7 linked regions of the Homo sapiens genome follow. The protein of the gene in region 4 interacts with the protein of the main gene of each other region in a pairwise test. Each region holds a gene or a part of one and is shown on either strand. Other genes may lie near its edges.

The links.
Region 1: the proteins of DPPA4 (region 4) and OSTF1 interact in a two-hybrid assay, tested with the Homo sapiens proteins (one large-scale study listed by BioGRID).
Region 2: the proteins of DPPA4 (region 4) and BTBD2 interact in a two-hybrid assay, tested with the Homo sapiens proteins (one large-scale study listed by BioGRID and IntAct).
Region 3: the proteins of DPPA4 (region 4) and SH3GL3 interact in a two-hybrid assay, tested with the Homo sapiens proteins (one large-scale study listed by BioGRID and IntAct).
Region 5: the proteins of DPPA4 (region 4) and SH3GL2 interact in a two-hybrid assay, tested with the Homo sapiens proteins (one large-scale study listed by BioGRID and IntAct).
Region 6: the proteins of DPPA4 (region 4) and NEDD9 interact in binary tests that used the Homo sapiens proteins (3 or more experiments, as listed by UniProt).
Region 7: the proteins of DPPA4 (region 4) and PTPRO interact in a two-hybrid assay, tested with the Homo sapiens proteins (one large-scale study listed by BioGRID and IntAct).

What each region holds. Positions count from the first base shown.
Region 1 is NC_000009.12:75,129,564-75,133,994, reverse strand, and holds part of OSTF1 (osteoclast-stimulating factor 1), read right to left. Parts: intron 3,418-4,431; coding exon 3,354-3,417; intron 2,226-3,353; coding exon 2,172-2,225; intron 702-2,171; coding exon 594-701; intron 1-593.
Region 2 is NC_000019.10:1,988,091-1,992,404, reverse strand, and holds part of BTBD2 (BTB/POZ domain-containing protein 2), read left to right. Parts: intron 1-348; coding exon of another isoform or gene 349-528; intron 529-1,582; coding exon 1,583-1,688; intron 1,689-2,034; exon of another isoform or gene 2,035-2,203; coding exon 2,204-2,401; exon of another isoform or gene 2,402-3,447; intron 3,448-3,910; exon of another isoform or gene 3,911-4,314.
Region 3 is NC_000015.10:83,610,950-83,615,380, forward strand, and holds part of SH3GL3 (endophilin-A3), read left to right. Parts: intron 1-464; exon of another isoform or gene 465-468; coding exon of another isoform or gene 469-638; intron 639-4,431. UniProt on the Homo sapiens protein: Implicated in endocytosis. May recruit other proteins to membranes with high curvature.
Region 4 is NC_000003.12:109,330,821-109,335,251, reverse strand, and holds part of DPPA4 (developmental pluripotency-associated protein 4), read left to right. Parts: intron 1-1,258; coding exon 1,259-1,382; intron 1,383-3,220; coding exon 3,221-3,381; intron 3,382-3,467; coding exon 3,468-3,518; intron 3,519-4,431. UniProt on the Homo sapiens protein: May be involved in the maintenance of active epigenetic status of target genes. May inhibit differentiation of embryonic cells into a primitive ectoderm lineage.
Region 5 is NC_000009.12:17,585,367-17,589,797, forward strand, and holds part of SH3GL2 (endophilin-A1), read left to right. Parts: intron 1-4,431. UniProt on the Homo sapiens protein: Implicated in synaptic vesicle endocytosis. May recruit other proteins to membranes with high curvature. Required for BDNF-dependent dendrite outgrowth.
Region 6 is NC_000006.12:11,208,067-11,212,497, reverse strand, and holds part of NEDD9 (enhancer of filamentation 1), read left to right. Parts: intron 1-4,431. UniProt on the Homo sapiens protein: Scaffolding protein which plays a central coordinating role for tyrosine-kinase-based signaling related to cell adhesion. As a focal adhesion protein, plays a role in embryonic fibroblast migration.
Region 7 is NC_000012.12:15,500,302-15,504,732, forward strand, and holds part of PTPRO (receptor-type tyrosine-protein phosphatase O isoform a precursor), read left to right. Parts: intron 1-1,318; coding exon 1,319-1,762; intron 1,763-3,606; coding exon 3,607-3,768; intron 3,769-4,431.

The sequences.
Region 1 (4,431 bases), on a different chromosome or scaffold from region 4:
TTAATTTGTTGAGATCTTCATTTCTTATTGTTGTTGAGTTTATTTCTTTTGTTATAGAGAGAGGTAGAAAAGCGGTGGGTGATAAATTTTTGTCCAGGAAGAAATACATCTAAAAATTCAATTTGTCATTATTATTGATTACAACAGAAAAAGTATCAATGGAATCACTAACTTTGGCAAATGTTGGCTTTCTCTTGAATCTAATAGTTTGCATTAAACTTAAAATGCAAATCATAAAAGAAGACCTTGTGAAAAGCTAAGCTAGAGGAGCAAATTCTGATCTTTCCTTCTGTAAGATTAGACAGTGGTTTTGTTTTTATATTACTGCTGTTTTCCAGTAACCTTTCTAAGCCTGAGAGAGGAAAGGAAGTGTCCAGTCTTTCAAGCGAGAGGGACCCATGCAGTGAGGCTGACTGACCACATTCTACCCACTGTTCTACAGAGCTTCCAGGAACAAGGGTTTTGGCCGGTATTCTAAAGGATTCAAAAAGAATAGCCAATGCTTTTCCTTTCTCATTTTTTGTAAATCTGGCTCCCGTAGGTGAAACACATTTTCAGCAGCATAGAAACATATAACAAACAAAATGTAATACCTTTGTGGCCCCCGTGGCAAGCCCAGTATAAGGCAGTGCTTCCAGCTTTGTCTAAGCCATTAACACCCACTCTGTTGTCCAAACACTCTCTCAACCAGCTCAAGTTGCCTGAAAGAATTTTACATTTACAAGAACACAAGAAAAAAAGCTTTCACTTTTTATTTTGCTTTTAAATCAATGTCATTCTGCATAAATTTCCATTTGCAATGGATTAATCAGCAAGTATTAAATTAAGACCTCCCCATTAATGCATTTATTATGGTACATTTTGACTTCCAGCTTATTAATGGAAAGTATTAACATCAATGTTTCTAATGATAAGTTAATGGGAATAGTTGCCCAAATGGGTATACTTAAGGTATTTCTATTCTGTTAAAAAATATATAGGGGTGTGTGTGTGTGTGTGTGTGTGTGTGTGTGTGTGTGTGTATGTGTGTGTATGTGTATATATTATTTTTTTCTTTGTGAAATTCTGGAAATTGAGGAAAAAACAATCAAACCTAAGAACAAGCAGATACTATTCATATTCATATTTAAAATGCATCTTCAGTTCCTATAAGAAAGGCTAAATAACCTACTCAAAGCTGCTGCTCTTATATGCTAAACTATAACTATTAATTTAAAATCCTCAGGCTAATGTCCCAAGTATCTAATTCACAAAGAATTTTTTAAATGTCAGTTTAGTCCTTTTACTTTTTCACAATCCTAACCAATAATTTCCTTGTGTACATTCAGATTTCCAAAAAAATCTAAAAATGGAATGAAATGGAGCTCATTGAGGCTTTACAAAAACTCCCCATTATCTACAGCAGGGTTTCTCAGCAGCAGCCCCATTGGCATTTGGGGTTGGATTTATTGTGGGGGTGCTCCTGTGTGCTGTAGGATGTGTGGCAACAACGCCTGCCTCTCCCCAAAAGATGCCAGTAACATCCCTCCAGTCATGACAGTCAACATGTCTCCAGATATTGCCAAATACCCTCGGGGTTTGTGAAAGAGGAATCACCCCTAGCTGAGGACTACTGATCTACAGAATAAAGCCCAAGACAAGGCTGATCGTTGTTTGGTCAAGGATCTTCCCCAGGTTCATCCCTGTTAGTCATGCCCTCCCTGGCCAAATGCTCACCACACCAACGCTCTCCTAAATGCTGTACCCACCAGACCCTTCCATTCTCTTGCCCTCCAGTTACTCACCTGGGCCTCTACGGCCTGTCAAACACATTTCAATTGCTGTACTTATCATACCATATTTTAATGATCTGTTACATCTCTCTCTCCCCTGCCAGATGTTGTGCTTTGGAAGTCACAGACCATGTCTTTCGACTTGCATCTCCCCACAACAGTGTTTCTTGACTGACATTTTAAAACTAAAATCACACTTCTCTAGGGTAGTAGATGTTGGGACAGACTGTAAGGCAGGGATTTAACTGAGAAGGTGCAAAGGGAACTTTCTAGGATGGCAGAAATGTTCTAGATCTTGATCTGGGTGTTGGTTACGTGGGTGTATGCACTTGTCAAAGCTAATTGAAATCCGTGCCTTTTACTGTACTGCATACCTCAGTCAAAAAGAATCACACCTACCTCTTTTTGCTGCTTCATGCAATGGATTGTCAATGGATTCTGCCTGCTCAGCCACTAGATTGAAAATAAAAAGTGTTAACCCAATGTGGAATTGCCACACAAATGATTTACTGAAGCCACTCATTCACCACAGTCCCCCAGCTTCAGGAGTACCAGGGCATTCAACACAGTTTCCTTTACTTAATGTGGATAAAAAGTAACAGAAAATCAAATGGATAGTTCTTGCATTAAATGAAGCTGAATTATGTGTTTAGGGAAACCAAGCCAAGCAATAAGGCAATAACATAGTAATTAACTGGAAGTATAAACAAAAACAAACAAACCCGCATACCTGAGTTAAATGCACACTTGATATTACTCAAGTATTTAATAAACAAAGTCACAAAAATGCAAAAGGAAGCATTTGATGTTCATTTTTACATTTTGTAGATCACTCTGCTTTAAAGATACCTGAAAATAATTTTGGTTCTCTTGTGTGTATTTATGTAGGATCGGATGAGGGGAGTATTTTGCTTCCTGTATTCAGAAAGAACAATCAGCATAGCTACCTGCCTCTTAAAGAAGGCATGTTCGCTGCTGTCCTAGAATCAGTAGGAAGTGTTATTAGGAAATGGAAGAAAGAGGATTAAAACTCAGGAGCCTTGTTTATCAATTCTGTGCTCTTTTGACTTGATTCTGCTGACAACTAAACAAGTGTTTTATCTGTTTGTCCCACTTCCAGCTTGAAGCAGCTTCATGGCGGGAGCCGTGTCTCTCATCTCTCAAAGTCTCCAAACTGCCATGATAAGCATTTAATGAACATCACTGCCCCAAACATGAATGAACAAGGCCGGGTTACTCCATCACAAAAGAAACGGCTAGTCTAAGAAACTATCTGCAAGATTGAGTTTATCAGCATTAAAAAAAATTGTTTTAAGGGTTGAAGAAAGTAAAACCATAAGTGTTTCCTTGGAAACCTTGGGTTAAGAATGCTAAAATGCATTCTCTTAGGCCACAGAGTCAGGCTCAAGCACATCTGGTGTTCATGGCCAGTTTATTAACAGAAGGCTCATGGAATAGAAAATGTCCTAGACTGACAATGACTCCATTGCTTTCTCAGCCACAGTAGCAAGCAGAAAAGCATCAAGAACCAAAAAATTCCAAGTGAACGAAGCTAAAGTAAAACCACTCAGCAACACTTACCATAGTTGCTTGGAATTAGTCCAGTCCTGCCTTTGGAGGTGCCTTTCCACCAATTGGTATCGCTCTGGTAAAAGAAGAGTTAAATTAAGTGGTATGAAATCCAGACTGCATTCATTCACTTTTCAAATTATCTAGCTCCTAGGGAGTACCTGTTCTACAAAATGTCCATCAACCCTACCCACACTATCAAGCTTCCTCACGCCCTAGCTGTGGGTGTCCGTCTCCCTTACCACTCAGTTACAAATAAACACGCATCTGCCTGCAACAAATGGAATACGTTTCATGACAGAGTCTCAACAACCAAACAAATAAGAGATGACATGAAACAGAAGAAAACAAATTACGCTAGTTTAGACTAGCTATATGATTTTTTGTCCACAGTTTCATTTCTCTTAGCTTTGAGATAATTTTTTTTATGGGGGAGGAAGTTCTAAAGATCTCTTTATATTATCTTCATTTTGGGGGTAACTTGTTATTATAGAAAAATTTAAACTTACAAAAAAGTAGAAAGAACAATGTAATGACCATATATATACCCATTTCCCAACTGCACAAATCATTTATTAATGACCAATATTGTTTCATATATGCCCCCATGACGTCCCTCCCCTCCTGGATTATTTTAAAATAAATTCTAGACATCATATTATTTCATTTGTAAATATTTCAGTACGTATCTCTGAAAGACACATACTTTTTGAAAGGCAATTATAATGCCATTATCACAGCTTAAAAGTTTTTTCCAACAATAATTCCTTAATATCATCAAATATCTAGGTCGATACTCAAATTTCCCAACTGCCCCATAATTTGGGACTCAAATAAGGGCTATACAATATGATTGATTTGTCTTTAAGTATCTTTTAATCTATAGGTTGTCTCTCCATTCTTTTTTATCTCTTACAATGTATTTGTTGAAGAATCCAGTTGGTTTGTTCTGTAGTGTCAACCTCTATGGATTTTGCCTGTTGTATCCCTGTGTTATCATTAAGCATGTTCCTCTGTTCCCTGTATTGCCTATAAATTGGTCATCAGTTCTAGAGGTTTAATTAGATTCAGCTCCAATTTTTTTTGGCAA
Region 2 (4,314 bases), on a different chromosome or scaffold from region 4:
ATTCAGGCCGGGCACTGTGGTTCATGCCTGTAATCCCAGCATTTTGGGAGGCTGAGACAGGCAGATCACCAGAGGTCAGGAGTTTGAGACCAGCCTGGCCAACATGGTGAAACCTCATCTCTACTAAAAAAAAATATTTCATAAATTAGCCAAGCACGCTGGTGCATGTCTGGAATCTCAACTACTTGGGGGACCAAAGCAGGAAGATTGCCTGAGCCCGGGAGGTTGAGGCTGCAGTGAGTGGAGATGGCGCCACTGCACTCCAGCCTGAGTGACAGAGTGAGACCCTGTCTCTAAAAAAAAAGTAAAATAATTTTTTTTTGAGACGGGGTTTCTCTTGTTGCCCAGGCTGGAGTGCAATGGCACGATCTCAGCTCACTGCAACCTCCGCCTCCAGCGTTCAAGCGATTCTCCTGCCTCAGCCTCCACAGTAGCTGGGATTACAGGCCCCCACCACCGCGCCTGGCTAAAAAAAAAGAAAAAAAAAAACCAGAGAGAACTTTCTCTCTCTCTCTAAGGAAATGTCAGGTAGACAGAGCAGGGCCAGGGATCTCAGGGGACCCCAGTTGGGCTCTGTGCAGCCCAAAGGGCGGGGGCTGGGGAGGTCGTGCAGGCCAGGGAGGCTGAGAGGACGTGGGGCCAGTACGGGTGGACGGCCGCTTGGGAGCCGTGAGCTCCTGGTCGGGGGTGGAGGGTGGCCAGAGGGGACAGCGGCACTGGGTCCTCCAATGGGCTTTGGGGGTCCGGCATCCTGGAAAGGACCCAGAACCTTCTCCCCCTCCATCCTGGCAGGTCAGATGCAGGGCATCCCGGACTCCCACAGGGAGGGGTTTCTTGTCCGGGTCATCTGGTCGCCTTGCTGGAGAGGCCTCTGCCTGAGCTGAGAGGAGGCTGGAGCTCACTCCCCGGGCTTCATCTTGTGGCTGCCTCAGCCTCCCTGCCCCTAAAACCACTACGAACCCACTTGAGAGGTGTCCTCGGGAGGATGCCCGCAGAAAGGCCTGCCCGGGTCCCTGCTGGCATAGGCCCTTCCAGCACCTTCCACTAACTAAGCCTCTGTTTCCCTAAGAGCACAGGCGTCCTCCAGCTCTGTCACCTGACTGTCAGAAGTCATGTCTGCTGTTTGTCTTGGGATGGAGCTGCCGGGGACACGGCCCCTCCCACCACAAGTGGCCAAGGGCATGTTGTGGTCGGGAAGCTTCACCGGTCGGCCCCGGCCACCTCACCTCTGCCTGCCACTCGGGGTCCTGGGCCCTGCTGCCCCCCGAGTGCAGCTGCAACGCCCCTTTTGCCTAAAGCAGCAGGCCCTGCCGACAGGGACCTGAGCATCTTTTTCTTCCTTCCTTGGCCTCTGAGGTCCTGAGAGGGAACTCCCCAACTCTCCCGCCCCAGTCAGCGGTCACAGGGGAGTCTCTGGGCCCACAACAGGGCCGGCCTGGTGGCTGAGACCCTGGTGGCTCCTGGCCACGCTCAGGAAGGCCCGTGTGGTCAGGGCTGCATTTGAACCGGCCCCGCACTGGGGATCTGCCGAGGGCTGGGTGCTGATGTCCCCACCGCGCCCCCCGTCGATGTCTCTTGCCAGGCGCGACTCTTCGATGAACCGCAGCTGGCCAGCCTGTGCCTGGAGAACATCGACAAAAACACTGCAGACGCCATCACCGCGGAGGGCTTCACCGACATTGACCTGGGTAAGGGCCCAGGAGCCCAGGTGTGGGAATCCCAGCGGGGCCTCGGCGGGAGGGTCCGGGGATTGACAGTGGGAGCTTTGGGCCTGGGGGAGTTGCACAGGTGAGCTGGGGCCTCACCACTTGCAGCAGGTCAGGAGTTTGGGTCCTAGCACAGCCCCACGGGAGTCCGGGGCCTTGGCCAGGAGGCCACAGGCCAGAGCCCACCATCCCAGCTGATGGTGACCATCTCGTCCTCCGATGGTCCATGGCTTTGACTTTGCTGTTGAACAGCTTTTGTCAAAGCTACTCAAGTCTGTCCTTGTGGCTTAAAAACAACCACAGCCGAGGAAAATGAAGGGGCGTGGTCTTGTGTTGATAAAGCTTTATTTATAAACACACTCACAGGGCCAGATTTGGGCCACGGGCCATAGTTGCCAGCCCGGCTTTAACTGCTGGTCCTCACGTTAGTCTCACTGCCTCCTGCAGGGTGGGCATGTGGGTGTCGTGTTCACGCAGCCCCTTCCTCCACCCCACAGACACGCTGGTGGCTGTCCTGGAGCGCGACACACTGGGCATCCGTGAGGTGCGGCTGTTCAATGCCGTTGTCCGCTGGTCCGAGGCCGAGTGTCAGCGGCAGCAGCTGCAGGTGACGCCAGAGAACAGGCGGAAGGTTCTGGGCAAGGCCCTGGGCCTCATTCGCTTCCCGCTCATGACCATCGAGGAGTTCGCTGCAGGTAACAGAGCTCGGGCTCAGGGGCTGGTTTGGGAGGGGAGTGGCACACAGGTGGGCATCTGGGTACCGAGGATAGTGCCCCCGAGTTCACTGCGGAAAGCCTGGCAGATGCCTGGCATATACAGATAGGAAGAAACCTGGCTTGTGAGGACGCGTCCACAGGGCCATCTGTTAGCCCCGGCCCGGCTCTGTCCCCACCGTGCACACTGCCAGACCCCGCCTCTCGTGTCTGTCCAGCTGTTTTGGTGGCATCTTCCCAGGAGGGAAGGGAGTCCCCGTCTCGCGCCCTTGTGCTACCTGCTGGTGCAGGTACCAGTGTCTGTGACGAGCTCAGGAGGGCTCTGACATGGCCGGGGTGGCTGTCATGCGCCCGAGTGGGCCTTGGGGTCCCCTGCTGCAGGGCCTGGGTTCCAGGGTGACGTGAAGGGGCAGCGCTAACGATGCCTCCTGCCCTCGTGGCTGCTCACTGCCTGACGCCATCCAGCTCTGGAGCAAAACAGGCCTGGAACTTTCCAGAAGGGGCTGGGACAGAGCCCTGGGGCTGGTGCACACTCGCCGTCTGGCCTTCCCCAGGTCCACGCGGCCCCCGCTCTTGCTTAGCTGAAGGTCGCCAGATTTAGCAAGAGGGTCTCTGTCGCCCAGGCTGAGTGCGGTGGTACAATCACAGCTCACTGCAGCCTCGACCTCCTGGGCTCAAGTGATCCTCCTGCTTCAGACTCCGGAGTAGCTGGGATCACAGGTGCCACCACCACACAAGGCTTATATTTGTATTTTTTTGTGGGGACAGGGTCTTGCTATGTCACCTGGGCTGGTCATGAACTGGGCTCCAGCCATCCTCCCATCTCGGCCTCACAAAGTGCTGGGATTATGGACATGGGCCACCGAGCCTGGCTAGATACATACTTCTTAAAAATACAACTGTTGATCAGCTGGGTGTGGTGGCTCATGCCTGTAATCCCAGCTACCCGGGAGGCTGAGGCAGGAGAATCACTTGAACCCAGGAGGTGGAGGTTGTGATGAGCCGAGATCGCGCCACTGCACTCCAGCCTGGGCAACAAGAGTGAAACTCCATTTAAAATAAAAAAATATATACAATTGTTGGCCAGGCTGGGTCACTCACTCCTGTAATCCCAGCACTTTGGGAGGCCCAAGATGGGGGGAATCACTTGAGGTCAGGAGTTTGAGACCAGCCTGACCAACAGGGTGAAACCCCGTCTCTACTAAAAATACAAGATTAGCTGGGCATGGTGGCGCATGCCTGTAAACCCAGCTATGCTGGAGGCTGAGGCAGGAGAATTGCTTGAACCCTGGAGACGGATGTTGCGGTGAGCCGAGATTACGCCACTGCACTCTAGCCTGGGGGACAAGAGCGAAACTCCGTCCTGCACTCTAGCCTGGGGGACAAGAGCGAAACTCCGTCTCAAAAAAAAAAAAAATTGTTAACATTGTTTATTGAGTTTTGATACTCAGTCTTCCTGATTCACTTAACCCATAATGGTCTGTTTCTCACCAGTTATTAAACTGTGTCTGCACTGGGCTGGCTTGCAGCTGAGCGATGCGGAGTTGAGCCCACCTTGGTTGATGAGTGATTAGGTCTCAGGCAGGCAGGGCTGCTCTCATTAGAGCAGAGGGTGCTGTGTCCTGGCACTCCTGGGGGTGGATGGTGGACCCCCAATTCTGCCCCTCCTGGCCTCCCCTCCCTACCCAGAGCCCCTTCACATCCCATGCACAGTCCCTCTGCCTGTGACATCTCTGCACCGGGATTAAGAGCCTGGCTCTTGGAGTCTGCCTGGGGTCCGCTAGCCATCACCCCTGGGGGTGTAAGCGCTTGAGAAGGTGTCTGCCTAGGGCCCACCGTGGAGAGGAACCCCCAGACTGCTTCTAGAAGCCAGGGCTGCAGCCTGGGGGGTACAG
Region 3 (4,431 bases), on a different chromosome or scaffold from region 4:
CCTTTGCAGCAGCAGGGACTTCAGCCAAAAAATATATATATATATATATAATATGTATGTGTGTGTGTATAAATGTATGTGTGTGTGTCTATATATATATATAGAGACAAAATAAGTGGAGTTGGGGGAGGGGCACCGCAAATAATGTTCCTGCTGTTAAAATAAGAGGGACTGAACCATATTAATGCCAAGGGGGAAGTTCAGTTTATTTCAGGGGGGACGTGGTTTTCCTACCTCCTACTGTGTTACTGATACAGTACTTACTGACCAGCCGTCTTAAACTCTTGTGGTAGGGTCTCTCTCTCTCTCTCTCTCTTTCTCTTTTTCCTAATGGTGTGGAACAGAGCTTGAATAATAAATATTTAACAGGGACACTCCCTTTTCTCTGTTAAAATAATCTTTGTTTCAATACTTTAACAAGGAAGACTGTGTTTTCCCACCTCTGCTCTCACGTTTCGTTGAAGCCAGGTCTCAGGAGTAAGAGAAAATCAACACAAGGCCACTTGGGGAGGGCAGTGCTGGCTGAAGCCGTCTCACTGGACAGCCCAGGGTCAGGGGTTTCAGCCGCCTGTTCAAGGACACCGAGATCCACAGCAGCCACCTGGGAGCTCCTACACAACTATGCCCAGCGATTCCAGGTGCCAGCTACTGAATGTGAGAGAGCAAGGAGGTGGAGGTGGATGAGGAACTGCCAGCTGCAGGACCACAGGGGCAAGGGGAAGGGGTTGTCAACAGGGATGGGACGCTGGGTAGGATCAGTCTTTTCTTACGAGACGTTTTCAGCTGAGGTGCTGGCTTCTGATGGTGGGAAACCAAGCATTCAGGTCCCTTGGAGAGGCTTATATCTAACAGTTGGAAAGCCTCCATTGAGGAAATCCAGCCCATTCTGCCTGGACTTTGGGGCTCCATCCATGGTGACTTTTGTGTCAAGGGAAAATTCACACACTGTCCCTCAGGCGGGCAGCAACTTAATTTCTCTTTAGCTGAACTGAACTTGCTTGCAAGCCTCTATGTAGACCAATGGCGGAAACAACTTAATCTTTTTTCCATTTCTGTTGTTGACCAAAAAAAAAAAAAAGCTTTAAAATCTTTTTTCCATTTCTTCTAATGGTGGAAAAAAGCATAATCTTGCCATTTCAAGGTAGCTCAGTCTCTTCCAATAGAAAGCATAGACTATCCGTTTATGACTTAGGCGATTCCAGATTTAAACACAGTCAATTCAGAGTAGAAATTCCCTATCAGGGCTGTTGGTTTTTCTTGAAGGTTCTCTCCTCCCCCTGGTCCAGTCCTAAGATGTTGCCTAGATGTGAGGGGGGTTTACAGAACATCATGGTGGCAGGTAGGGAGGCTCACTTCCACAGCTGAGGTGACTCGTCACAGGAGGCCTGGGGCCTGGGCCAGGATCTGTGCTGACATCTGTGGCTTAGGCCTCCCTCTCTGGGTTGCTGAATCTCTGTATTTGGAGCCGTGTGTCACTGCCCCCAGGCAGCCTCTGGCCTCAGTGGCCCCTCAGCACTTCCTGCTGGGGACTTGAGGGAATTTGTTCACAGTTCACAGGGAGCGACCAGCCTTCAGGCCCCATCTGTACTTAGTGACACCACATGGTTTCCACTGGGCTCCAGCCCCCGTGTTAGTCCAGAGAACTTTGACAGCTGCCTTCTCCCGGGATTTCTGTGGAAAGTGGAGTCTAAGACCCCCTTCCCCAGGGTGGCATCCAAGGAGCATTTCAATTTTCTTGCTCACCCTCTTCTCACTGCAGGCCCCTTCCCTGCTTCCCTGCCTCCAGAAAGAGCTTGTATCTCTTCTCTGGATGGCAGGAAACAGCTCCTCCCTCTCCATGGCTTGTAATCAAAATGCTAGGCTCTGAGTTCTTCAAGCTCTAGTTCTTGGAACCCAGAAGTTTCTCTCTCTCTCTCGCTCTTAAATCTTATAAAAGCCTACCTGGCTCTAGCATGAAAGCCTAAAAGCCTTGGCTTTCACAATGTTTCACAACTGAAATGGTATTATTTGGGAATTTAAAAGCTAAACATTGACTGCTTTGTTCATGTCTGGGTTCCACCCTCCTCCTCAAGTAAGGGAGGCAAGCCCCAGCTCCTTGGGTTGAGGGCCCCAGGCAACAGAAATGACCCAGAATGAAAAATGCATTGATACTTCAGAATATCGTCCGGCTGCATGTATAATTCAGGGCAGCCAGTCTGAGCTCTGGTTGGGGTGGATTTACCAACTGCCTACTTAGCAAGTGCCAATTGCTCTTAGTGTTGTAGCCAGCCCAGTGGTGGCTGGAGGGCCAGGTGCACTTGTACTGCCTGAGTCAGGGAGTTCTTGAACAGGGTCTTTCTACTCAGTGGTCTCTGGAGAGATGCCCTGCCTTGGGTTTAGGTGCTGATGGAGTGTGATATGAGTGCTGGTCTCTTTCCAGCTCTCAGAATATCAAAGTGGGCAATGTGGCAGTGGTTCCTTGCCAAGAATGAATGACATGAGAAGTGAGTAATGCAGCTTTTCCATGATTTGTTCTGTGTGTGTGTGCAGCAAGAACCCAGGTTTACACATGGAGGTGGTGGCCTGGTTTACACATGGAGGTGGTGCATACACTTGGACAAATGTATGCTTGCCACTAAGCATTTTGGTCATTGCAGGTGGCTTATAGAGTAAATGGGAGGGAAATATATAAATCTATCTATCTATCTATCTATCTATCTATCTATCTATCTATCTATCTATCTATCATTAGCCCTGTAATCAGTGTGTCAGCCTATGAAATGTCTTGGCAACCCTTAGTGGTGTCATAGATCATGTACGAGGTGACATGGAGCAAGGTAGCTGATGGCCTAGGGTCTGGAGCCCTCCTGTTTCTGGCTCAGCCAGTAGCCCTGGGGCCAGGCCATTATGACCTCTCAGAGGCATTGATGGCTTCTCTTGGAAAAGGAGAGGACTCATGGAGGACTGCCAAATTCCATTCTAGCATTAACATTCTGTGTTCAAGGAAATGCTTCCCGAGACTACCATGTGGTTTGGCACCTGACCCCTTCTCTGTTAAAAACTAGTCTAGTAGTGGGAGAAATGCTAAAAGAATAATAATTATTTTTATAATCCACATTAAAACAGTTATACATTAATAAAGTAGACTTTGACTCACAGCTCAGGTTGCCCTTGGTTTTCAGTGCTCAGCCCCCACCTGCCCACCCATATACACACTCCATGACCCAAGGAAAATGAAAAGTTCTGTATTGTAAGCCCTCTATTCCCCATGCTTTGTTTGAAATCATTGAATGTTGTTCTGTTCAAATTCAAAATAGTGAACTAATCCCCAATATTTACAGCCTTCCACCCCCTAGCTTTCATCATTATGACAAGAGGAATACACAGACTTAGGCAGGGGTGGGGTCTGTCACGGAAGGAGCTGTCTAGAGGCTAGAAACATCATGTAGATCATAGAGGTTATATTGCAGGTGGGTTCAGAGTTTCAAAGTCACGACCCAGTACAGGAGCTGCCTCCCTGAAGAGGAAGAAGAGCTCCCCTACCATTACCCCCTTCTCTTTCCTCGCCAGCTGAGTCTCTTTAACCTTTAACGCTTCCTTAGGGGAAGGAGAGGGGAGGATCATTTCACTGGTGGTTGTCAACCTACCCTGGACATAGGAAGGACCTGAGAAACAAAAAATACTGATGCCGGGTTCACCCTGGGCAGTGGGCTGTTTAGTGTGCCACCAAGTTGAGAACCACTGCCATAGGAAGGCAACAGGAAGCCACCTTGGTACAACCTGGGGAGCTCCGCTGATGAAGGCTCCTTAGAGTGCCCTGTTCCTTAGAGATATAGGCGCTACTCCATGAATTTCAAGCTGTCTAAACAACTATAATATAATCCTTCTCACAACAGGAATCTCCATTGCCCCAACTCTTGTCTTCCTCCTCCCATAATGCTGTCACCTCTCTACCCCTCCCCAGGACAAAGGGGCATCTCATTTGGCCAGCCACAGAAATACCCCAACGTACCTATTCTCTTTACTTGGACCTAGAAGACTTAGTGGAGAAAGAACATAATCTCTAGCAGAACTTGTTCAATTCTCACTTGAAGTCTAGAGGGAGGAAAAAGTCTTATAACAGAAAAAGGAAATAAAAATGGAAATCATCAAATAGGATGGCAAAAGTCACTTATTAAGAAAAAAAAAAACTCCTAAGATTAATCTTATTAATACTCAAAGAAAAAAAGTATGAACTAGTCAAAATTGAAGTGAGATTTTTGTGAGAGAAATGTGTCATATTAATACTGAAATATACCTAGTTAAATGAATTCATGAGAATAGCAAGGAAATATTGAAATAGAAGGGTAATGACTATGAACTAGTTTTACTAGTTATTAACATTTTATTTATTTATTTATTTTTGAGATGGAGTCTCACTCTGTCACCCAGGCTGGAGTGTAGTGGTGTGAT
Region 4 (4,431 bases):
GAACCCGGGAGGTAGAGCTTGGAGTGAGCTATGGTCCTGTCACTGCACTCCAGCCTGTGTGACAGGGCAAGACCTTTTCTTTAATAAATAAATATTTTTTAAAAAAATGAAAGTGAGGAGCATATCAAAGCCAATGCCTAGTATGAGACAGAGGCTCAATATATGTTACTGTCTCTGGATTAAACAACTTTTCCCCACTCCCACTTTGCTTCCTTTAATTCAATGAACCAATATTTATTGAGTGCCTATGATGAAAAAGAAATCACACAAACCAATGTAATTGCAATTAACAAGTGGTAGAAATGAGGTAGTATTTAGTAGATTGGTCTGGAAGGACCAGGTTAAATAGCACTTGAGGTGAGACTTTTAAAAGAAGAGTAAGATTTTTAAGGTGTAAGATTTTAAAGTGTAAATAGAAGTAGGGTGGAGGTTGGGGCTGAGGAATGTAACAACTTTGGAAAGGAAAGGAATTATGTGGCTGGAGCTTGGTCAGGGAGAGCAGTGTGAAATAGGAGATAAGAGGCTGGTAGGTAATGTTAAAGACAATTACTTTTATGTTAAGAGCAATAAACCACTGAAACTTTTCATAGTGTCACTCTGCCAACAGTGTTAGAAAATTATTTGGAAGGCGTCAAGAATGAAGGACTGGGGGAAAAAATTCTGCCAGGTGAGAGATGATGGAATATAGTAAGTGAGTTAAGGGCCTCTTTTTTTTTTTTGAGACAGTCTCATTCTGTCACCCAGGCTGGAGTGCAGTGGTGCAGCCTCTACCTACCTCCCTGGCTCAAGCAATCCTCCTATCTCAGTCTCGAGTAGCTGGACTACACGCACACACCACCATGCTCAGCTAATTTTGTTTCCTTATGTAGAGGCAAGGTTTCACTATGTTGTTGCTCAGGCTGGTATCCAGTTACTGGACTCAAGCAATCCTCTTGCCTAGGCCTCCTATAGCACTCAGACTACAGGCGTGAGCCTACCTAAGCGCTTTTTCCCCTCAAGGCAGAGCTGTTTTCTTCTACTCTTGTTTGTATCTGTCTTTTCATGTGCTTTCAAACTGGCTTCCTCCCTTTTTTTCCATCATTGTTTCCCAGTCTTGTAAATGAAACTGAGTATTAAGATGATACCCAGAGGAGAATCCACACTGCCAGTGGAGTCCAGTAACTGCGTTGGTGCCTTAGAAGTGAGTTATCTTGAGGCAGGTAGTGTATGTGTGGTTTGGACACTAGAGGAATGACTGACCAGCTCCTCTGTTCCCCAGTGGACCTCCACAGAGAAGTCGAGGGAAGAGGATCAGCAGGCTTCTAATCAACCAAATTCAATTGCTTTGCCAGGAACATCAGCAAAGAGAACCAAAGAAAAAATGTCTATCAAAGGCAGTAAAGGTAAGAGGTCTTCAAATTCTCAAATCCCACCTTCTCGGGTCTTAGAAGCCAGAGGAATTTTTCTGAAGAAGAAAAACCAGGGAAGAAATTTCCATCATGTATTGTGCAAATCCTGCACTTCATGGAAGCCAAGCTTAAACTGTTACCTTCCTGAAGCATCTTTTGGTCACCACTGCTCTAACTGATCCCTTCCTATCTTCAGACTTCCACAGCATATTTGGTTCTGCTGATCATTTTTTCCTTCACTTGCTACTTGGAGTTAAGGATTTCAGTGTGCAATGATTTGGGAACAGACAGCTGTAAATTTGAAGATCCATTCTTGAAACCGGACTTCCTATTCTAAAAATAAGTTAGGACAATATCTACCTTTATTAAGCGGTGGGAATGGAGTGTTAAAATTTACATAGAGTAGTTAAGTGAAGCACTTAGACTATGCCTGAGAAGTAATATGTACAGAGTAAACCCTACTATTAGTGTCATTACAGGCTGGTTTTTTTTTTTTTTTTTTTTTTTTTTTTTTGAGACACCAAGACAGGGTGTTGCTCTGTCATCCAGGCTGGAGTGTGGTGGCACCATCTCAGCTCCCTGCAACCTGTGCCTCCCGAGTTCAAGCAATTCTCCTGTCTCAGCCTCCCAAGTTAGCTAGGATTGCAGGCGTGTGCCACCATGCCTGGCTGATTTTTGTATTTTTAGTAGAGACAGGGTTTCACCATATTGGCCAGGCTGATTGCAAACTCTTGGCCTCAAGTGATCGTCTGCCTTGGCCTCCTAAAGTGCTGGGGTTACAGGTGTGAGGCACCATGCCCAGCCTTAGAAATTTTTATGGCACGATCCCGGCCCACTACAACCTCTGCCTCCCGGGTTCAAACAGTTCTCCTGCCTCAGCCTCCCAAGTAGCTGGGATTACAGGCATGTGCCACCACGCCCAGCTAATTTTTTAAGTAGAGACGGCGTTTCACCATGTTGACCATGCTGATCTCCAACTCCTGACCTCAGGTTATCCACCCACCTCGGCCTCCCAAAGTGCTGGGATTACAGTGTGAGCCACTGCGCCCAGCCAGAAATCTTTACTGAATGAAGACAAGGTATGTGAGGTGCAGAAGCGGGATGAACAGAAACACAGCAGAGCTAAGGAAACATACCTGCTATGAAACCAGAGTGCTTCCCTGACCTAGGGTGGGCTGGCAGAATTAAGGGTATTAGTGGTTGCCTGTGTAGCATTGTCAGGTGTTGATTTTGCTCTGGGGGTAGAGGACACCACTGAGTATGATCTCAAGTCTAAGACAGCGGTAATTCCCCTGGGATGGAAGTGCAACCTCCGATGCCACCACCTGGATTCTGTGGATTAAGGAGCTCACAAAGGAGCAAGTGTACCTCAGTAGTGGGGCAATTTAGGAATAAAACTGGGTTTTAGAAGTGGTAAATCCTAGGTTTGAGAGGGATTGGACTATTAACTAAAAGTGATTTTAGGCTGGGCGCGGTGGCTTAGGCCTGTAATCTCAGAACTTTGGGAGGCCTAGGTGGGCAGATCACAAGGTCAGGAGTTCGAGACCAGCTTGGCCAACATGGTGAAACCCCATCTCCACTAAAAATACAAAAAATTAGCCGGGCGTGGTGGTGGGCGTCTGTAATCCCAGCTACTCAGGAGGCTGAGGCAGGAGAATCACTTGAACCCACGAGGCGGAGGTTGCAGGGAGCCAAGATCGCGCCACTGCACTCCAGCCGGGCGACAGAGCAAGATTCTGTCTCAAAAAAGAAAAAAAAAGTGATTTTACTTTTGAAATTCAGAAAAGCTACACAAAGATAATTACTACTCATTTGATTCCATTCTGCTTCAGTGCTCTGCCCTAAGAAAAAGGCAGAGCACACTGACAACCCCAGACCTCAGAAGAAGATACCAATCCCTCCATTACCTTCTAAACTGCCACCTGTTAATCTGATTCACCGGGACATTCTGCGGGCCTGGTGCCAACAATTGAAGCTGAGCTCCAAAGGCCAGGTGAGGTCCCAGGCTGGGGACGGTGCTGCTGGGAGGAAGGGTAGGAACCTTATTTGCCTTACTAACTCAGTTTTCTATTGTCTTAGAAATTGGATGCATATAAGCGCCTGTGTGCCTTTGCCTACCCAAATCAAAAGGTAACTTTTTAAAGGATGGACGTTTCAATGCTTATCCTAATTACCTATTGTAGCCTCAAAAGTGAGTAAAGGAACTGTCTTAGCCTCACCTTGTTCCTCCACCCCTAGTTCTAAGAAAGAACAATATTTCCCATCTCTACTTCTCTTTTTTTTCTTTCTTTCTTTCTTTTTTTTTTTTTTTTTTTTTTTTGAGACAGAGTCTTGCACTGTCACCCAGGCTGGAGTGCAGTGGCACCATCTCGGCTCACTGCAACCTTCACTTCCCGGGTTCAAGCAATTCTCCTGCCTCAGCCTCCAGAGTAGCTCGGATTACAGGCGCCTGCCTCAGGTGATCCACCCACTTCGGCCTCCCAAAGTGCTGGGATTACAGGCGTGAACCACTGTGCCTGGCCAGCAATTTTCTTTTTTTCTATTTTTTTCTTTTCATTTCTTTTCTTTTCTTTTCTTTCTTTTTTTTTTTTTTTTTTTTTTTTGAGACAGAGTCTCCCTCTGTCACTTAGGCTGCAGTTCAGGCTGCAACCTCTGCCTCCCTGGTTCAAGTGATGCCCCTGTCTCAGCCCCTGGAGTAGCTGAGATTACAAGCATGAGCCACCATGCCTGGATAATTTTTGTATTTTTAGTAGAGACGGGATTTCACCATGTTGGCCAGGCTGGTCTCGAACTCCTGACCTCAAGTGTTTCACCCACCTTGGCCTCCCAAAGTGCTGGGATTACAGACCTGAGCCACTGGGTGGCCAACTGAGCAATTTTCAAGAAGACAGTACATTGTTATTAACTATGTATAGTTACCAACTTGTACAATAGATCTCTTGAACCTAGTCCTCCTAAGTGAAACTTTGTATTTGATCAAGAGCTCCTTAGGCCATTTTTGTTAGAATTTTAATCTGTATTTTTATCTTTATTATTTAACCCT
Region 5 (4,431 bases), on a different chromosome or scaffold from region 4:
AAGTCAGTGGATTTTTTGGCCTCCTTTTTTCTCTTTTTGTTCTTTTAATCCTTCGTACCCTTGTCCTGTGTTCTTTTAGGTAATGTTCAGTGAGGTGTAGCCACAAGAGGGGACATAGGAGAGGCTCAAGAAAACAGAGTTTATTATACTCACATGTCTTAGAATGACAATCACTGTACAGGAGGATAGGAGGGGGGACACGTGGGGTGGAGGTGACAGCTCTGAGAGCAGGATCAGCTAAGCAGGTGGGAAACAGGTGGGAGCAGAGAGAGCAAGGACTGTGGGCAAGTGCCTTTACTAGTGATCTCAGTGCAGTTCACAGCTCAGTGCAGTTCACAGTGCGTTGCATTGGTGCATTGGTAGGTCGTGGTCAGAAGAAGACAGAGAGGTGAACTTGTGGTAGGGGCCAACCTTATCAAACTTGTGCACCTGGTTACCTGGGTGGGGTGTTCACAGTTAGCGTATGTGGGAATGAATGTTGAGGCAGCAAGAGGCAGCAGGAGACAACATGTGAAGTTTTGAAACTTTGTAGTACAACCCTTCTCAGTGTTTTTGGTTTAGAATTTATTGTTTCCATAATCACTTAAGGAGCCTAAAAGCTTAAGAATGATGTACATGGTATCCGATGGATAATAAAGACTAAAGAGAGCTATAACTATACTTATTAAAATGCCATGATTGTGAGACCCTGCCAAGTCTTTTGCATTCTACCAACAAAATATTTTCATGCTATACTAAATCATTAGCTGATGACAAATGCTTCAGGAAATAATTTCACTATTTATAAAGGTTTTACATTTAGTACAACTTCTAAATGCCAAATATGATGTTGTAGTTGCTCTACCCTAATCTCCCTCCGCCATCCCCTGGGTCAAATTGTATATAGTAGTAATGAATATGGAGAAGCTGTCTGTAATACTCGTGAAGAACCCACAGCTCCATGGAGGTTTACTTGGATACTTAGGACACTGAAGGACCTCTAGGCAGTGTTTTCTGCCTTTTTTTGAATTATGATATATATAAAAAATAGAAATATCTTTTTTATAATTCAAACTAACCTTTCCCCATAGATACTAATGGAAGCAGTTTTATAATGCTGAGAAACATCTCAATATCAAGCTATGTATTAGTCTGTTCTCATGTTGCTAATAAAGGCATACCCGAGACTGGGTAATTTATAAAGGAAAGAGGTGTAATTGACTCACAGTTCTGCATGGCTAGGGAGGGCTCAGGAAACTTACAGTCATGGCAGAAGGGGGATCAAAAATGTCCTTCACATGACGGCAGCAAGGAGAAGTACAGAGCAAAGTGGGGTAAAAGCCCCTTATAAAACCGTCAGCTCTCGTGAGAATTCACTCACTATCACGAGAACAGTGTGGCGGTAACCACCCCTATGATTCAATTACCTCCCACCAGGTCCCTCCCATGACACATGGGGATTGTGGGAACTACAGTTTAAGATGAGATTTGGGTGGGGACACAGCCAAACCGTATCACAGAATAATGCTTGAAAGAAACATAAAGCAGATAGCCTATGCTTTTAAACGTACAGGAAATCGGCTGGGTGCGGTGGCTCATGCCTGCAATCCCAGCACTTTGGGAGGTCGAGGCAGGCAGATCACTTGAGGAGTTTGAGACCAGCTTGGCCAACATGGCAAAACCTCGTCTCTACTAAAAATGGGAAAATTAGCCAGGCTTGGTGATGCACAGCTGTATTTCTGGCTACTCAGGAGGCTGAGGCAGGAGAATTGCTTGCACCTGGGAGGCGGAGGCTACAGTGAGCCAAGATCACACCGTTGCACTCCAGCCTGGGCGACAGAGCGAGACTGTCTCAAAAACAAAACAAAACAAAACAAAAAGTACAGGAAATAATGTCCACAGTGAATGACTCCAGTGAGGAAAGGAGAGAAGGGGAGTCAGGACAGTTATTGTCCATAACAGTGATGGCATCCTGCAGGGGGCATTGTGAAATCCCCTGCCTGCCAGTAGAGGAAGTTCCTTGGTTTTACAATCTGGCTCTGCAATCTGGGAAGAACTCTTGTTCTTTCTTATATATATTTGGCCAGGTCTAAGGAGGGTTAGAGGAAATCTGCCCTCTTTGGGAACGGCATAACTTTTCAGTCAACTTCCTGTTTATTTAAATTTGGGGATTGTTTTACAGTCATAGGGTTTTCACTATCCATGGTAGATTTGAGTAATGAAATTTCTTCATAAACTTAGTAGGCTTCTGGCCAAGTGCGGTAGCTCATGCCTGTAATCCCCGCACTTTGGGAGGCCGAGGTGGGCGGGTCACCTGAGGCCAGGGGTTCAAGACCAGCCTGGACAACATGGTGAAGCCGCTTCTCTACTAAAACTACAAAAATTAGCCAGGCATGGTGGCCTACGCCTGTAGTCCCAGCTACTCGGGAGGCTGAAGCTTGAACCTGGGAGAGTTGCTTGAACCTGGGAGGCAGAGGTTGCAGTGAGCCAGATTGCACCACTGCACTCCAGCCTGAGCAGTAGAGCAAGTCACTGTCTCAAAAAAACAAAAACCAAAAAAAAAAAACCAGAAAAACTTCAACTTAATAGGCTTCTGATGTGTTTTCTTGTGAGTTTCATTTGCCAATTTCTATGATGGAAATTCTTTTTTAGACCTAATTTTCATCCAGTAGACTTGGTTGTGTTACTCTGAACTTAACAAGAGGGCCTGATACTTTGGCTTAACCAAGAAGTCTTAATGGTACTTTGTTGCTCAAAGTCTTTTTCATTTATATTTCCCGTTATTTGCTTCAGGGACTCAGGATGACCCTGGATCGGTTCTGCCATCTGTAACATATGGTTTTCAAGGTTGCCAAAGGGAAAGAATATGTTTGAACAAGCATGGGAGATGTTCATAAGCCAGGCCTGGAAGAGGAATATGGTAGACAGAATGCTACGATTGTTGGTGACTCTTGCTCTTGTGTACTCTCCTCCCCTTTGAGTGTGGGTGCAATGTTCAATTTGAAAAGATGTTATTCCTGAGACTTTTAACTTTGTAAGACAAAAGGGAGATTATATGATTGGACTTAATCTAATCTCATGAGCCCTTTAAAAGCAGGATATTTTCTCTGGCTGGTAGTGGAAGGAAAAATCAGAGAGATTGGAAGTATGAGCAGGACTGGACATGCTGTTGTTGGTTTAAAGAGGGAGGGGCCATGTGAGTAGTAATGCAGGCAGCCTCTAGGAGCAGAAATCAGCTCTTTGGTGACCATCAGCAGGGAAAATAGGGATCTTAGACCCACAGCCTTGAAGAATCTGAGAGGAAGGGAATTCTTCCCCCAAGCTTCCAGATAAGAGCCCAGTCTAGCCAACGCCTTCATTTTGGCCTTGTGAGGCCCTCAACAGGGAGCTCACTTAAGCAGGCCCAGACTTCTAATTTATAGAATTGTAAGATAATAAATGGGTATTGTTTTAAGCTGCTAAATTTGTGGTAATTTGTTATACAACAGCTGAAAATGAAGAGAAGGAATAGTTCCTTCTGTTTATGTTTGGTTGGCTGGAACTTGTAACATGGCCCCTCTGTGGTACACCTAAGAGAAATGGAAGAAGGCAAGTGTAGCCTAGCTATGTGCCCAGGATGTAAAAGTGGGTTTTTGGTTAAAAAGCTAGCAGTTTTGCTATTACTGGTGCCTATAATTAATTAATTGTGTGTCTGTATATTAATCTATTTGTGAGCTTGTAAGTGTATGTATATGTGCATATGTCCATATGTACATACACAACATACATATGCACATATGAATTTTAAGTCTAGTTTGCTGAATAAGTCTTTTCTTAATACATAAGGCTCAGTATGTTCCATGTGCCTTTTGAAACTGTCGTCCAGGCTGGGGTATAATGGGGCGATCACAGCTCACTACAGCCTCAATCCTCTGAGCCCAAGCAATCCTCCCACCTCAGCCTCCAGAGTAGTGGGACTATAGGCGTGTGCCGCTATGCCTGGCCCATGTGCCTTTTTAATATATTTTTTATTTTATAGATTTTTTTCTACAGTGCTTTGGCTTTTTGATATTTAGATGTTTTTCTCTGATGAGGCACAAGTTTATTTCTGTGGCTCCTGATCAGTTTTTTTTTTAACAGTGGCACCGTTAAGTACTTGCTGAGCAGTACCTTAGCCTGGTGGGCTGGTGGAACAGTGACAACTTCTCTAACCTTGGAATAGAGAGACTACAGATCTGCAAAGAAGTTTCTGAATTCTTAGTCTCTGACAGTGTGGCAGGGATTTCAGTTAGAGTAGAGGAGTTGACTGTTAATCCTGCATCTGTTTTTGTGCTTGGGGGAAGGCTGAGGCCAACACAGACAGTGAAATGCCTTACTTAGTGCAGGCACATCGGATGGCTACATGGTACTTTGAAGTTGTTCATTAAGTTGTTGAGGATTGCAGATTTGTGTAGCACATTTGAAGTGTGTTGT
Region 6 (4,431 bases), on a different chromosome or scaffold from region 4:
ATTTTTGATGCTTGTGATACAGTGATTAATTAAAGATAAACAAAGCCCTGGTGATGCTTACATTGCCGTGGGGGAGACAGAAGCAACCAAGAGAATGCTAGGTAGGGACACGTGTTATCAGGAAAATAATGTCAGTGGACTGATCGGGGGTAACACCCACAACCAAGGTGATGCTTATGTGAGCATCACAAAGGAGGGATTTTCTCTTTCATTTGCTGGCAAATTCCAATGGGTCCTACAAGGTTTGGTATTAGGAATGAACAAATTTAACTGGATAAGAAGATATCCCTGAATTACAAGAGGAAAGATGCAATTACATACCAGAAAGAGCTTGTTGACCCTTAGAACACTAACTATAGATGTGTCCTGCCCCAAGTAAATCTAATATGAAGTCTGATTTTACAAACCTCTGTAAATTAGGGAATATCTATTTGATGTATTAGAATCCTCTGTTGAAAAAACAAAGGATTCCTTTAAACAATGAAAGCACTAATGCATTTTTGGGTACATGGAAAGAGGCAGCCTAGAGACCCTGTGGAGAGCCCTTAGTGTTTGGCTGGGGAGGTGCCAGGGCCACCCTCCTGCCCTCCCCATCCTGGCCATGTCACCACCCCAGACCCTGACCCTGTGTGGGTAGATTCCTTTAAACAACAAAGCACTAATGCATTTTTAAATCACCTTTGATATAAAAAGTATGTTTTACAAAATACTTCTCAAGAGCACGCGTGTGGCATGAACTGAGCGTAGGTTCGTTAAGAGGGATTCCTCAAGGGTGGTGCACAGCTTTTAGACTTGTACTGCCCACGACAACGATGCTGCCTAGAGGTGATAAACTGACTTGTGGCTTTTCAGTCTTCCTTGTCCTAGGAATTGTAGATTCAAAGGGAAAACAAAACCTGGCTTCTATCTCCAGAGGGGAAAAATAACAGTTGAAAGGTGTAACTATAAATAAGTAACTTCACTCATTCTTAGTCCTGGTTGTTTGCACCTTAAAAATAGCTCTCCCACATCTGAGCCAGTGTGAGGCAGAAGGGGAGGCCAGAGCAGGAAATGCTTGGCTGGGAGGTGGTGGGCTCTAAACTTTCATCACAGTTGACTTTGGCAGGAAGGTAGCGTGTTTTCCTTTTTAGACCCAACCTTTTCAGCTCCAAGTCAGAGAAGCCTAAGCCTTCAGACTTCTTCCCCTTGTATCTGCTGGGACTGCCCTGCAGGCTTTCCCCATGGCTCCCCGTCCTTCCAGAGGGCAGAGATACGGACTCATCTTCCCTTGGATTGATGTCAAAGGGCTGGGGTGCTGGGGTGACCCTCGGGCACTCACATTCCATGTTTTGTTTTGCTTTTTTTAAGTCTACACTCAGTAGAACATTTTCTGTTTAGCAAAAGGTAGATGAGTCCTGCAGGAGGAAATCAACTTCTGAAAATGACCTGTGCCAGCCCTTCCAGGAGTTGCAGCCAGGGCTGAAGAGTAGGCCGTGCCTAAAGCATCACACAGTCAGGGTCTGGGGTAGTGACATGGCCAGGATGGGGAGGGCAAGAGGGTGGCCCTGGCACCTTCCCTGCCAAATACCAAGGGCTTCTCCACAGTATCCTGATCCTGGGTCTCTAGGCTGCCTCTCTCCATGTACCCCAGAGCAGTGGTTCACATCCATGGGAGTGTGGTTGCCTCTTCCTTTCTTTTCACTCCCTTCCTCACTTCTCTTTTCTATCTCTCTCTCTCTCTCTCTCTCTCTCCCCCCATCCCTCCCTCCTTCCCTCTCCCTCCCTTCCTCCCTTCCTTCCTTTCTTTCATAGTGGAGATGGCTTAGCTGCTAGGAGGTGATTTTAGCCTTCCAGGCAATTGCAACTGCTTTAAAAAACATCTGTCAACATCTTCCTGGGTATAGGATATTCTCAGTGGGTGGGAATCATTCTAATGACTTAAGCCTAGGCCCTAAGAGATAATCCCAGCACACTGGGGATCAGGCGTGGCTTTTTCATTTTTCTGAGTTTGCATTTTAGTAGTTTTACTGACTGGCTTAATAAAGCAATTTGCTCATTTTCTCTTTAAATTTTTCATCTGTAAGATAATATGAGCCCAGAACTAGATATGCCTGGTAGTTTAAGCTATGGTCTTTAAAAGCTCTTGAATAAGAAAATAAGGAGGCAGTGGAATCTTATTCTGAGCCACCGGGGTGGGGTTTAAAAATGTTAATGGGCATAGAATCACCCAGAGAGGTAGGGCAGTGAGTTTAAATGCAGATTCCCAGGTCTTTCCCTCAGAGAAATTAATCCAGTAGGTCTGGTTGGGGGCCCAGGAATCTGCATCTTATTGAGCTCCTTGCATAGTTTTGTGGGTGGTGGCCTAGGACTAGACTTTGAGAAACACTGTAAAGGGACCATGAAGGGGCTGGGACATGCTCCAATCTGATTATGATTTGGGACTTTCCATAGTTCAAAATTCCCTTGATATTGCTACAGACTGTGGGCTTCCGAAGTTTTACCCAGCACTGCTTTTTTCTACTAATGAATCACTTAAGGAAAAAAAAAAGACAGTGAATTCTGCCTTCTATCACTTCAACTTTGCTCTCTTGGAAACTCCAACCTCTACCCACCCTCTTGCATCCCCTCCACACTAACTGACATTCATCACATATTAAATCAGCATTTAGAGAAAGAAATATAGTCATAAAATCCCCACCCTTTTAGGAAACAAGCAGACAGTGTGAGAATTGTGGAGAGAGTAAGGCCTTCAGGGTTCAGCTGATGCTGGGTTGTTTCTCCATAGCTGTATATCCTTTGGTAAGTTACTGACCATCTCTACGCCTTGGTTTCTTCATCTGTTTAATGGGAATGATACTAACTACTTCATAGGCTGTCGTGAGAATTAAACAGAAGCATACATAGAAAGTCCCTGGCTCAGTGCTTAGCATGGCAGGGGCTTAAAAGAATGCATTCCTCTCACCTTGCGTTTCCTTTCTCAGAGTTTATTTCCTACTACATCAGCCCTGTTGTGTTTCTTACGACACACCGAAGGTACAAGTGCTTTCTTGCTAACACATATGCTGTGTTTTTTGAGTGTGTGGCTTTCTCTTTGGTTCTGCAAGAATTCTGCAAAGGGTGGAAAAAAACTCTCCAAGTTATCTGAAAACCATATACGCTGACACCTTTACTTAATTTCATTGGTCTTTTTCACTCTGTGTTTTGTGCACAGGGCCGTTTTATCCATTAGGCGTTGTAGGCAATATGCCCAGTGCCTATAAGAATGTTTGGGAGCTGAATAAAAGATCTTTTGACTCCAAAATATGAAACACAAAAACTGCAAAATAGAAATTAATAAACATTTAGGTCAATGTCTAGGAAACCATATCATGTCTGCCCCATTAATTGTTTTATTTAGGGCTTATAACTATTTCATCATATTAGAAAACAGTATGTAGGTTATATTTTTCTCACTTTGCAAAGATTTCTAAATATGCATCATGGTTGCCAAGAACCCACAGGCAATCCTAAATTAAATAAGTTACTCATAGTCGAATAATTTGAAAAACTGAATTATAAAGGAAGAAAAAAAGTTTTCAATTTTTAACAGCAAAAATTCTACTTAATATGGGATTATGGTTTGGGGTAAATGAAATCTACAAATGTTCAAAACCAAAAGCCTAAAAAGATCTAAAATAGTCTCATTTCTCTGCTTCAAAGATCAGTGAAATTGCTACCTGAGTTCATCCATTTCACAGTTGATCTGCATGGGAAATTATATGTGCTTCTCTGATTTTTCTTTGGATGTGTCGCTTTTATTCTAACTGCTGGAACTATTTGTTGTACCTCTTTCTGAAGATCAGTTTGGGGCTAAATTACAAGCTCCATCAGCACAGGGGCCATGGCTGCCTCCTGACTGCTGTAGGCTGAGCACTTGGTAGAGCATCAGCCCACAGATAGCAGCCCAGTGAACCAATGAACAGGTGGAAGCAAGAATCAAAGTGTTAAATGAGAGTTAACCTTTAATTAACTGAAAGGTGGTTCTGATCTTATCACACATCCACCCTCACACGCTGCTGCTCGAATCCCATGGTTCAGCTCATTACCATCTGGTATGAGAGGTGTCAGATTATATACAGTCATTTCCCTCGCTGAAGGACCTTCCAGAATGTCACTGCCTGTGTCCTGTAAGGGTAACTATTCATATACAATCAATGAGCACCTTGATGCAAAGCATGAGTGATGTAAAGAAGGGCTTATCTGAGAGTTTAACTTCTGTGCATTTTGCCCAATTTAGACAAGATTAGTTAACTCCTCTGTGGTCACCTAAGGAGGAAAACTAGGCTTTTTTTTTTTTTTTTTGAGTCAGGGTCTCGCTCTGTCACCCATGCTGAAGTGCGGTGGTGCCATCTCGGCTCACTGCAACTTCTGGCTCCTGGGTTCAAGCGATTCTCATTCCTCAGCCTGCCCAGT
Region 7 (4,431 bases), on a different chromosome or scaffold from region 4:
GATGTCATGATTCTTATTCATTAGTCTAAGACCAGGAAACTATTTCAGCTAAATCACTAATTCACCTAATGTCAACAGTTAAGATTCTATTTATGTTTTTCATTATTCAATGTAAGTAGAAAAACATTAATTGAGCACCTTCTACCTGGAAGTTGTTCTCAGTACTGAGACATGAAGACAAAGACTGATGAGACAGGATCCTTGTGCTCAAAAATTGGTACTCATAATACACGAATGGCACTAACACAAGGCAGAATGAGATAAATATTATAACAGAGGTACAAAGTTATTTAACAACACAAAGGAAGGAGAGATAAATTTTTATTAGAAGCTCATGGGGCCTAGCACGGTGGCTCATGCCTGTAATCCCAGCACTTTGGGAGGCCGAGGCAGGTGGATCACCTGAGGTCAGGAGTTTGAGACCAGCCTAGCCAACGTGGTGAAACCCCATCTCTACTAAGAATACAAATATTAGCTGGGCATGGTGGCTGGTGCCTGTAATCCCAGCTACTCGGGAGACTGAGGCAGGAGAACTGCTTGAACCCAGGAGGCGGAGGTTGCAGTGAGCCGAGACCACGTCATTGCACTCTAGCCTGGGCAACAGAGAGAGATACTGTCTCAAAATAAAAATTAACAAAAAAGTTCATGGAAGAGGTGATAATGGAACTGCTATTTGAAGAACAAGTAGAAACTGTTACAGGCAGAGACTACGCAGTGCGTCTTCATAATTTTCTCCCTGTAAGTAAAGTGTGCTTCCATAATTTGTAAACTCATTTTGAGTTTATATGTTTCATTTTAGGGAGGTGAGGAGTGAAGCTATATTTCTAACATGTGTGTTAACATCTCTAAAGGCAACACATGTATGCAACTCTTGTAGGTGCAACTATGTCACATGGAGTATTTTCATCTTCATAGCTATAAGTACACTATACTTGTTTTGTTTTGGTTTTTTTGTAATAAAAATCCAGGAACAGAGATACATTTTTTTGTAAGTGGAATTACGATAAACTGAAAAATATTTATATACTCTGCTTTTAGAAGTGGTTGAATTACCACTTCAACAAGCATAATATTGTAAGTTAATATATTTGAAGTGTGACTAGTGGTATGTTGATAGGTATACATCATCCACAAAATGTTAGAAGTATGTATATGGAAAAAAACACAGCTTATCTTGATGTAAATTTGTCTGTGTATCAGAAGTAAAATTAAATTCCACTTTTAAAAATCTGCTTGTGTACCTGACTCATTAAGAGATTAAGTATTCACTCTAATTGAATTAAAAAATACTTGAAAATGAAAATTCTCTCTCTTACAGCCCCTTATCCACCTCAAAATATTTCCGTTCGTATCGTAAACTTGAACAAAAACAACTGGGAAGAACAGAGTGGCAATTTCCCAGAAGAATCCTTCATGAGATCACAAGATACAATAGGAAAAGAAAAACTCTTCCATTTTACAGAAGAAACCCCTGAAATTCCCTCGGGCAACATTTCTTCCGGTTGGCCTGATTTTAATAGCAGTGACTATGAAACTACGTCTCAGCCATATTGGTGGGACAGTGCATCTGCAGCTCCTGAAAGTGAAGATGAATTTGTCAGCGTACTTCCCATGGAATACGAAAATAACAGTACACTCAGTGAGACAGAGAAGTCAACATCAGGCTCTTTCTCCTTTTTCCCTGTGCAAATGATATTGACCTGGTTACCACCCAAACCACCCACTGCTTTTGATGGGTTCCATATCCATATTGAACGAGAAGGTAAAGCAGTAGGAAATCAGAGGAAATAAGAACTGATACAAAGGAAGGGGAATTGAAATGTTTTTAAATTTGAGTTTAGAAAGACTGATCATAGACAGTTATTAGTCAAAGAATAATGGTAATGAAAGGGGAGAATTTAATTGAGTATCCAATGCAGACTGAGAGCAGAAAACCCAAATGAATAGACTGGATAAGAATCAGAAGGTTTGGGTGATTCACAAGTTGTAAGTACTGCCAACTGTATACATTTGACTGCCCACTATTTCTCATGTCTCAGAACAATGAGGAAAACATCATATTTGGAAATATTTTGAATTAAAGATCTAACTATCCCAGAATGTTACAACATAACCTAGAGAAATTTTCTGTTTTCTCATATGCAAATTTTTAAACATGGCAGCAAAGTAATACTTATGAAAACATTACTACTTCCTCAAGAATATGAGGCATGTGTCCTGCTAACCAGCCGCTCTTGTTCCCTTTAGGGTGCGCCCCTCTAGAAAAAGCACCACAGTTTTCCAAAGAGAAGCTGATAGTAAAATGGAAAATACACAGCTGCTGACATTTCCATATAGCTACTATATTATATTTTGCATTGACTAACTCAGCATCTGAGGTTCATTCTTTATATTTTAGCCACTAACTTAGGAAAGTAGAGCCATGACTTTCAACAAGTTTGGGTCATGATACCTATCTCAATTGTTGTTTGGTAGATTTTTATGGTTATTTGTTGTTTGTTTAGTTTTTACAGTAATATACTTCATTTTCCATTTTCTGATCTAGTAGTTTGAGTGGCAGAGGTTATAATTTGTAAAAATTTGAAGTTACAGTGATAGCCTTATTTTTAGGGTGAGAGTTTAAGGCCCATGTAGTCTCATATACTGACATATTGTTTACTCCTATTTTACTTAATAGCATGAGATACAAAATCTGTGGATTCTTCTATACAAGATGATACAGCATTCAACCATACCCAAATATTACATAAAATGAAAATTCTTAATTATTTGAGTCAAAAGTCATTTTCCTGGAATTTCCTATTTTTTTTAAAGTTTCCTTAATCTATCATTTATTTTTCTGTTCCTAAATATGTTCCTACGGCAAATAGGATCTTGTCATTACAAAAATTTTTTACTGCCTCTTCTCATGAAGGTTCTATTATGCATTTATCTGACTCAGTGTCTTCTTTTGAAGGCTGTTGTAGTCACCAACTGATGATAATGACTTCAAATGAAGTAATAAGCAGCAGAGGATGGATGGACTGTGAAGCAATGTGAAATAATTCTTTCTTTAAGAAGATCTGAAAGCAAATGGATAAAGGAAAAATATTACCATGATTATTATTTTTTTAATTTTACTTTAAGTTCAGGGGTACATCAGAAAATATACCTTAAAAATTAGATGTATTTTAAATAAATGTTAAAGCACTTCTGGATGGTTAATACTACCACAAAGAACTTACAAGATATTTGATCCTGGTTATTTTTTAGCCCTTACCTCGTGATGAGAAAGCCAACAATTGTTAACTTTTCCTGATTATCTACTTCTATTTTGTACACATAATTTTGTTGGGTAGGAGTACATAAAGATACACAGTGTAGACCCATCCCTAGTTTTATTGATTTGAATGCCGTATTTGAGTTTTGTTATTTGGAAGACTGTAAAAATACTGAACTCTTATTTATTATTCTTTAATGGTACCTTTAGTTTAGAGGTGTAATTGAACTTGACAAAAGGAGGGAACATTTAAAACACCTAATTTTTTTTCATTAATCGACTTGTCTATACCCAGGGCCTTTCCAGGTGTCTATTCATGTATCTTCTCTTTTTTATATATGATTTAGAGAACTTTACTGAATATTTGATGGTGGATGAAGAAGCACATGAATTTGTTGCAGAACTGAAGGAACCTGGGAAATATAAGTTATCTGTGACAACCTTTAGTTCCTCAGGATCTTGTGAAACTCGAAAAAGTCAGTCAGCAAAATCACTCAGCTTTTATATCAGTAAGTAACAAAGAGATCATTTTACACTTACTGGGGAGCTAGAACAATGGAACTGGTGGGATTAATGATGCTCAGATGTCAATTATTCACAAACCTTAGGGATGATGAGAAGTCTTCAAGATCAGGAGAGGCTGAGATCCACAAGCTTTGGATAGCAGAGGAAATGAATGCTTGTTTAATAGTAGCAATCCTATCCAGGGGTTTAACTTGAGGATTTTTTTTTTACTATTGTGATAATTGAACATTTATTAAACTGACCTTTCACATTAGCCATAACAAAGCCTCCAAGGATGTGGACATACAGTTTGGGAAATACGACATTTGTTTGAGCCCATAACGAAATGATATTATAGGACTGTGAAAAATCTCATTAGAGTATTGAGCTTGTGAGGCTCAAAAGAAAGACAAAGATTCAAGTGTGGGTACACCCCGATGGTCTCAATAAAACTGGTGGGAAAAGTCATAGCTAGAGCAACCTGAAAGTCCCAGTGTCAAGTCCTAGGGTGGCCTCTACCATTCCATAAGGGTAACAGGACAGCAAAAGCTAGCCTCTGAAGGTTGCACAAACAGTGCCTGCCTCTATAACGTGTTTAGCTAAACTGACTATGTTTACTGGAAGTATAGAGGTCAAAAATCAGTAACCTACCCTATCAGGAGTTATAT